Regions from separate parts of the Homo sapiens genome. Here region 1 is linked to region 2. Evidence: fine-mapped QTL for protein levels in blood plasma. Region 2 holds a variant in brackets. A gene starts in the other region. All regions are shown on their forward strands.

What was found. PIP is the chance, under the fine-mapping model, that this variant and not a neighbour inherited with it causes the effect. Protein levels are from antibody-based Olink assays in UK Biobank. Linkage for the fine-mapping came from a reference panel and not from the study's own genotypes, which makes the PIPs less certain.
Region 1: it holds the start of SCGB3A1, and the variant in region 2 is fine-mapped to the plasma level of the SCGB3A1 protein (UK Biobank, PIP above 0.99).

The regions. Positions count from the first base shown.
Region 1 is chr5:180,590,216-180,593,117 of GRCh38, forward strand. SCGB3A1 (secretoglobin family 3A member 1) reads right to left here and starts at 1,284. Exons shown (of 3, transcript NM_052863.3): 1 at 1,196-1,284; 2 at 385-623; 3 at 1-39. The coding sequence starts at 1,247. The coding sequence ends at 16. RefSeq lists enhancers at 1-145, 146-815, 816-1,485.
Region 2 is chr12:11,877,379-11,880,280 of GRCh38, forward strand. All of the region lies in intron 5 of ETV6 (ETS variant transcription factor 6), which reads left to right. Among named protein-coding and RNA genes, the nearest start is that of BCL2L14, 190 kb to the right of the region's middle. RefSeq lists an enhancer at 859-1,656. The variant A/C (reference allele first, on the strand shown) is at 1,153.

The sequences.
Region 1 (2,902 bases), not on the chromosome of region 2:
TGCTCCAGTCTCGGCTCAGCCAAACACTGTCAGGGCCCCCTGGAAAGCAGAAGCCGAGCTTGAGTGCCCCCAGCCCTGCCACCAAGAACTCAGGCGGGGGCGCGGCAGCGGCCGGCTCTGTGGGGAGCGGGAGCGGGGCGGTTCCGCTGGCGTCTCCGGGGGACGCGCACCCGCGCGGGGCCATCTCCGCCTTCCCCGCCCCTGCAGCTCGGATGCGCCCCACCCAGTTCCCACCCGGAGACCCGGGCTTCTCCCAGGGACAGGGCTTGGAGGGGCAGGACGGGAAACAGCCCTGACGTAGGGCCGGGACACCTCTGGTGCAGTTTTGAGGCTGGCCGGGAAGGGATGCCCGCGCAGGAAGGGCACCCGGGGTGCCCACTTTACCAGCAGGGCCTTCAGGGCCTTCACGGCCCCCACGGCCTGGGGACCCAGCTCAGCCACACACTTCTGGGAGCCCTCTATGAGGTGGTTCACGGGGATGCCCAGGCTGCTCAGCAGGAGCTTCAGCGGGTTGAGGGTGCCGAGGGGGTTGGCCAGGGTCCCGGCCCCGGCCTCCGCCGCCGACTCCAGCGCAGCGACAGGCTGGGCCACAGGCTTGGCCGAGCCCACTAAGAAAGCAGCAGCTGCAAGCGAACAGGGAGGGGTCACCGCCTGCGCGCCGGGGTCCCCAGAAGGCAGGTCCAGGACGCGCCCCCGCGGGAGGCGCCCAGGAACCGTCGCGCCCTGCCCGGCTCCCCGACCGCCCCTCCCTCCTGCGCCGAGGCCTGCCAGGTGCGAGCCCCCGGGACACAGGCGGGTCTGGGGAGGCGGCCCCGCCAGGAGACGCTGCAGGGTCACCGGAGTGGCCTGAGGGTGGCGGAAGGACCGGTGAACTCTGTGCAGGGTCCGGGACAGGCCCCCAAGGGAGGGGACACTCGCGCTGCGCCTTGCAGGATGAGGAGCCGGTCTCCAGACGGGGGGCAGACGGGTGTCCCCAGGCCAGGGGCGGCCTCCATCCCGGCACGAGGCTGGAGACAGCCCTGAGAGGGGGAGGCCGCGGGCTGCAGGCGCGGGGCCCCGGGGTGGCGGAGCCCTCTGGGCGCCGGGCGAGGCTGGAAGGACCTGGGATCCACGATCGGCGCAGGCAGCGGCGGGGGCGCAGCGGGCGCCGAGGCCTCAGGCCCCACCGTGCGCGCCAGGAGCCCGGGGCGCTCACCGGAGCTGCAGGACAGGGCCACGCAGAGCCCCAGGAGGGCGGCGAGCTTCATGGCGCGGGGGCTCGGGGCGCGCGGGGAACCTGCGGCTGCCCGGGCAAGGCCACGAGGCTTCTTATACCCGGTCCTCGCCCCTCCAGCGCCGGCCTCGCCCGCGCTCCTGAGAAAGCCCTGCCCGCTCCGCTCACGGCCGTGCCCTGGCCAACTTCCTGCTGCGGCCGGCGGGCCCTGGGAAGCCCGTGCCCCCTTCCCTGCCCGGGCCTCGAGGACTTCCTCTTGGCAGGCGCTGGGGCCCTCTGAGAGCAGGCAGGCCCGGCCTTTGTCTCCGCGAGGCCCACCCCGGCCCGCACCTTCGCTTTGCGGTCTGACCCCACGCGCCCCCCTGCAGGGCTGGGCCCGGGTGAGGGGAGCTTCCCTCGCGCCAGGGCAGGGGCGGGGGCGGCGCAGTTCCTGGCTCCCTGGTCCCTGCCTCTGATCCCAGACCGTGGCAACGTCGGGCACTGGGGGTCCTCGTGGGCGCCTTCTGCGCCTGGGGAGGTGGAGGCGCCAGGGACGATCAGGCCTCACTCCCGGCCGCCTCCCCGGCCGGGCCACAGGCAGCCACAGTGCAAACAGAAGTGGGGCGTTTTTCTGTCTTCGAAACTAGCCTCGACGCCAGTGGATGGGCCTGGTTTGTTCCTGAGTTTCTCTAAATGTCCTCACTCGTCTGTCACCTGCAGAAGTATGACAGATGGAGAGCAAAGCACATTTTGAAAACTTTTGCAAATGATACATAAACTAATTTGCTTTTAGTCCTTCTTCTTTCCTCTATTTTTTGACCCCAGGCATTGAGCACTGAGTGACTCACGTTTTGCTGCGTGGCTGCTCTCAGCTAGGTTGGTGCAAAGTCTCTCTTTTCTTTTGTAAAGTGTAGCTGGCACGCGTGGGAAACAGGCTCCCGGGTGGGAGGACCTGACTCTTCAGGCAGTGTCCTGGAATTCCTTCCCTATGGCTGACAGCACGTCTTAGCCCTCAGCCACCCCGAGCTACTGCGGCCTCCTCCGCACCTGCAGACACTTGTGCCTTTGCCAACTGTTGTGGCCAGGCACACGCATTCACACTGTTTCTGTTCACTTACACTTTTCCTTGACTATTTTGTTTGGGGGATTTTTGCATTATAAATCTGGAGTTTGGTTGTGTTTTGTTGGTCATCATGGAAGTAATTTTAATGGGAAATACGTTTTCTTTTTTAAAAACAGTTTGAAGTTAATTACTTTTTTGGTGGTGGTAAAGACACTGTCTTGCCGTGTTGCCCAGGCTGGTCTCGAACTCCTGAGCTCAAGCAATCCTCCCACCTCAGACTCCCAAGTAGCTGGGACTAGAGGTGTGAGCCACCACACTCAGCGGATTTTGATTTTGTTTTTTGTTTGTTTGTTTTTTGAGACAGTCTCACTCTGTCGCCCAGGCTGGAGTGTAGTGAGGTGATCTTGGTTCACTGCAGCCTCCACCTCCCAGGCTCAAGCAATTCTCCCACCTCAGCCTCCCAAGCAGGTGGGGCTATAGGTGTGCACCACTATGTCCAGCTAATTTTGTTTATTTTTTGTAGAGACAAAGTCTCACTGTGTTGCCCAGACTGGTCTTGAACTCTTAGCCTCAAGTGATACTCTTGCCTCAGCCTCCCAAAGTGCTGGGATTACAGGTGTGAGCCACCACGCCTGGCTTGATTTATT
Region 2 (2,902 bases):
TGTGAAGGGATTGCATGAAAGTGCTGGGGGCAAGTCTCAGCCCTCGGCCTTTGTTGGAAGGTGTGGGGTGTGCAGACACATGTGCACCTTCGCACACATGCATCTGTGCATAAATATCTGTGTTTGCAGGAAAGAAAAGATAGGGTTGTGGGATGTCCCCAGAAGCCACAGGGATTCCAGTGTTTTAGTACCAGGTGAAAGAGCCGCTTCCTCCCACACTATCTCAGGGAGATGCCCTTCTGTAGACCTCTGTAGCCCAGTACCCTCAAGAGCTCCTGGAGACAGATGGCCCCGAACAGTCCTAGGGAAGCAGTGTGGGCCTGTGGCAAAAGCTTGGACTGCGAAGTCAGCATGATTGGAATCCGGTTCTTGACTCCCAAGCAGGTGCATAATGTCCCTGAGCCCTTCTTTCCTTATCTGTAATATTGAGAATAGTAATACCCATTTCTGGGCCCTTTTGACTGTTAATGAGACAACATGTGAATGCATGGCACAAGAAAGTTAATTGCTACGTGTCACTGTCCCCCCCTGCCTCACTGCTGAGCTGCCATCCTGCCCATCTGAGAGGGACTGTGTGGGAGCTGTGGGTACAGCCAGCACAACTGCCTGCAGAGCCACGCAGGGCACTGACAGGGAAGGCCTGTGTGGGGTGCCCTTCAAGGCCACCTCCGTTTTCTTATTTCCTTGGAGATTTACTTTTGTGCTCCTGCTTCCCCTCCCTGAAGCTTTGCCTGCTGTCCATATTTGGAGGGGATGAATAAGATGAGCACTGGGGAGGGGAGGAGCCATCACTCCAGCAGGAATATTCCCAGCGGCTGAGTCACTGCATTTGATTTTCAGTGTGAACAACTGAGAAATCAAAGAGCCCTAAAAGAGGAGGAAGTTTCAGGACAATGTTTTTAAAAGATAAAAAAACATCAACAGCATGGTGTCTGAGTGGAAAATAATAGAAGGGGCTTGAGGAGACTGGAAATTCCAGTTTGTGTAAGGGCGCACAGTGCTGTAATACAGAGTCCTACCTCCCTGCAGTCCCTGGATGTGAATTCCCAGGCTGCACCCACACCTGAGCAAAGCGGAGGCTGGGCCTTATTAGGTTCTGACTGCGGGCTGGATCTCAGCTGCAGGCTGTGAGTTTCGGATACCGGTGTTTCC[A/C]AGCCTTCTCCACACCTTATGTAATCACAGGTGAAAAGGTCCAGCCTCATTTGCAGCTGTGGTTCTTCTGCCCCAGGAAGCCAGGAAGCGTAGATTTTTGTATTATTTGCCTCCACTTCTCCCTCCCCCAGCGTGCCACCGTGCACATATGTTTTCTGTTTTCCTAAGCCACGGCAAAGCACAAGCAATTGCCCATTGTAAACACACCTCTGCGTATCAACACACACCTGGCTGCACTGGATTGACCAACTTTCTGCTTCTAGGTAATGGCTGATCTAGAATAGAGGAGGAGGAGGGGAAAAAAAAAAAAAACAAGCAGCAGATGGCCCCCTGAATGTTGTAAACCGTGTTTCTCTAAGCAGGGTTTCTCAACACTCTCGATATTTGGGCCAAATAATAATTTGTGGGGTTGCTTACTATATTGTAAGAGATTCAGCAGCATCCCTGGCCTCTACCCACTAGATGCTAGGAGCACCCTGCACCCCAGTGTGACAACCAGAAATGCCTCCAGATATTGCCACATGCCCCCAGTTCAGAACCATATTTGTAAAGCTTAGTAGCAACTTTTTTTTTCATATGCTACTTTGCGTGTTTTGTTGCTGAACTGGAAATAAACGTTAATTTTTAGGTAATAAATTTCAAAAAATGTAACAGGGACACTCAGCCTCTCTTCTGGTAATTATGCCCATGACACTGTCATTTGCAGGCCTTCTTTAAAATTCCACTTGGGCAGTTAAAAGAACATAAAATGACTTTCTTAGAAGCTTTCCTGAAATTTAAATTAACCACAATCATTAAACATTCCCTATGTCAATAATTTGACTTTCCTACTCAAAGTTTTTTAAGGCATCAGTTTTGTCTAGCGTGGTTTTTTTCTTTAGAAACCATGTTGGTTATGTGTGAATTGCCCATCTTTTTACAATCTCTGCTCAATAAGTTTATACAATGAGTCTCTGGTAAGAGACAGACGTGGGAGTGAAAATATTTCTCCTTAACCACAGGAAGGGATTTTTTACAATGCCTTTAGCTGCGGATACCGAGGGTACCTCACCCAGCAGGAAGGAGAGGGAACTATACTTGGGCTAAACACTTTCATAAACTACTTCTCATGGAAAAGAAAATCCAAATAGTGGAAATTTCTTTAAAATATCCATGTGCCTTGAGATAGAAGAAAGCCCTTTCGTTTAAGAAAAATGCACTTAAAATTAATGAATACCTTGTGATCCAAAAACATTTTATACATATACGTTCAGGTGTTTTGAAGTGGAGTGAACTTCTATTTATAGAGTGTGTTGCGCTTTATTATATAGTATTATGCATTTACATTGATGATCAAAGAACATTGTATCTGTGCAGGCATGGGTTCCGAAAAGGCTGAAAAATTCCAGGTGAGCCGTGGCAACAACCTCTAAAGGATCTAGGAACCTAAAGAGGATCTGCCTTTTATTTAATAGAAATCTTAGAAACAAAAATAACTGACATGGCTTGAATGTCAATTGTTTAAAAAAAAAAAAAAAAAAAGGAAAAAAAATCTATTGTGTGGTCAGGCAGTTATTTTTATCATCTAGGCATAATTTTTACCAAAGAAACAAAACAATCAATAATGTTATAAAAGCCACTTATACTCTGAGCTTGAAACAACTGCTTTATGCCACAAAATTCCTATTGCTGTCTCCGTTAGTGACTAATTCAATATGTCCTGAATGTCAACGTATTTTTATTACTCAGCTAAAGTTGGCTTTGCTGGATT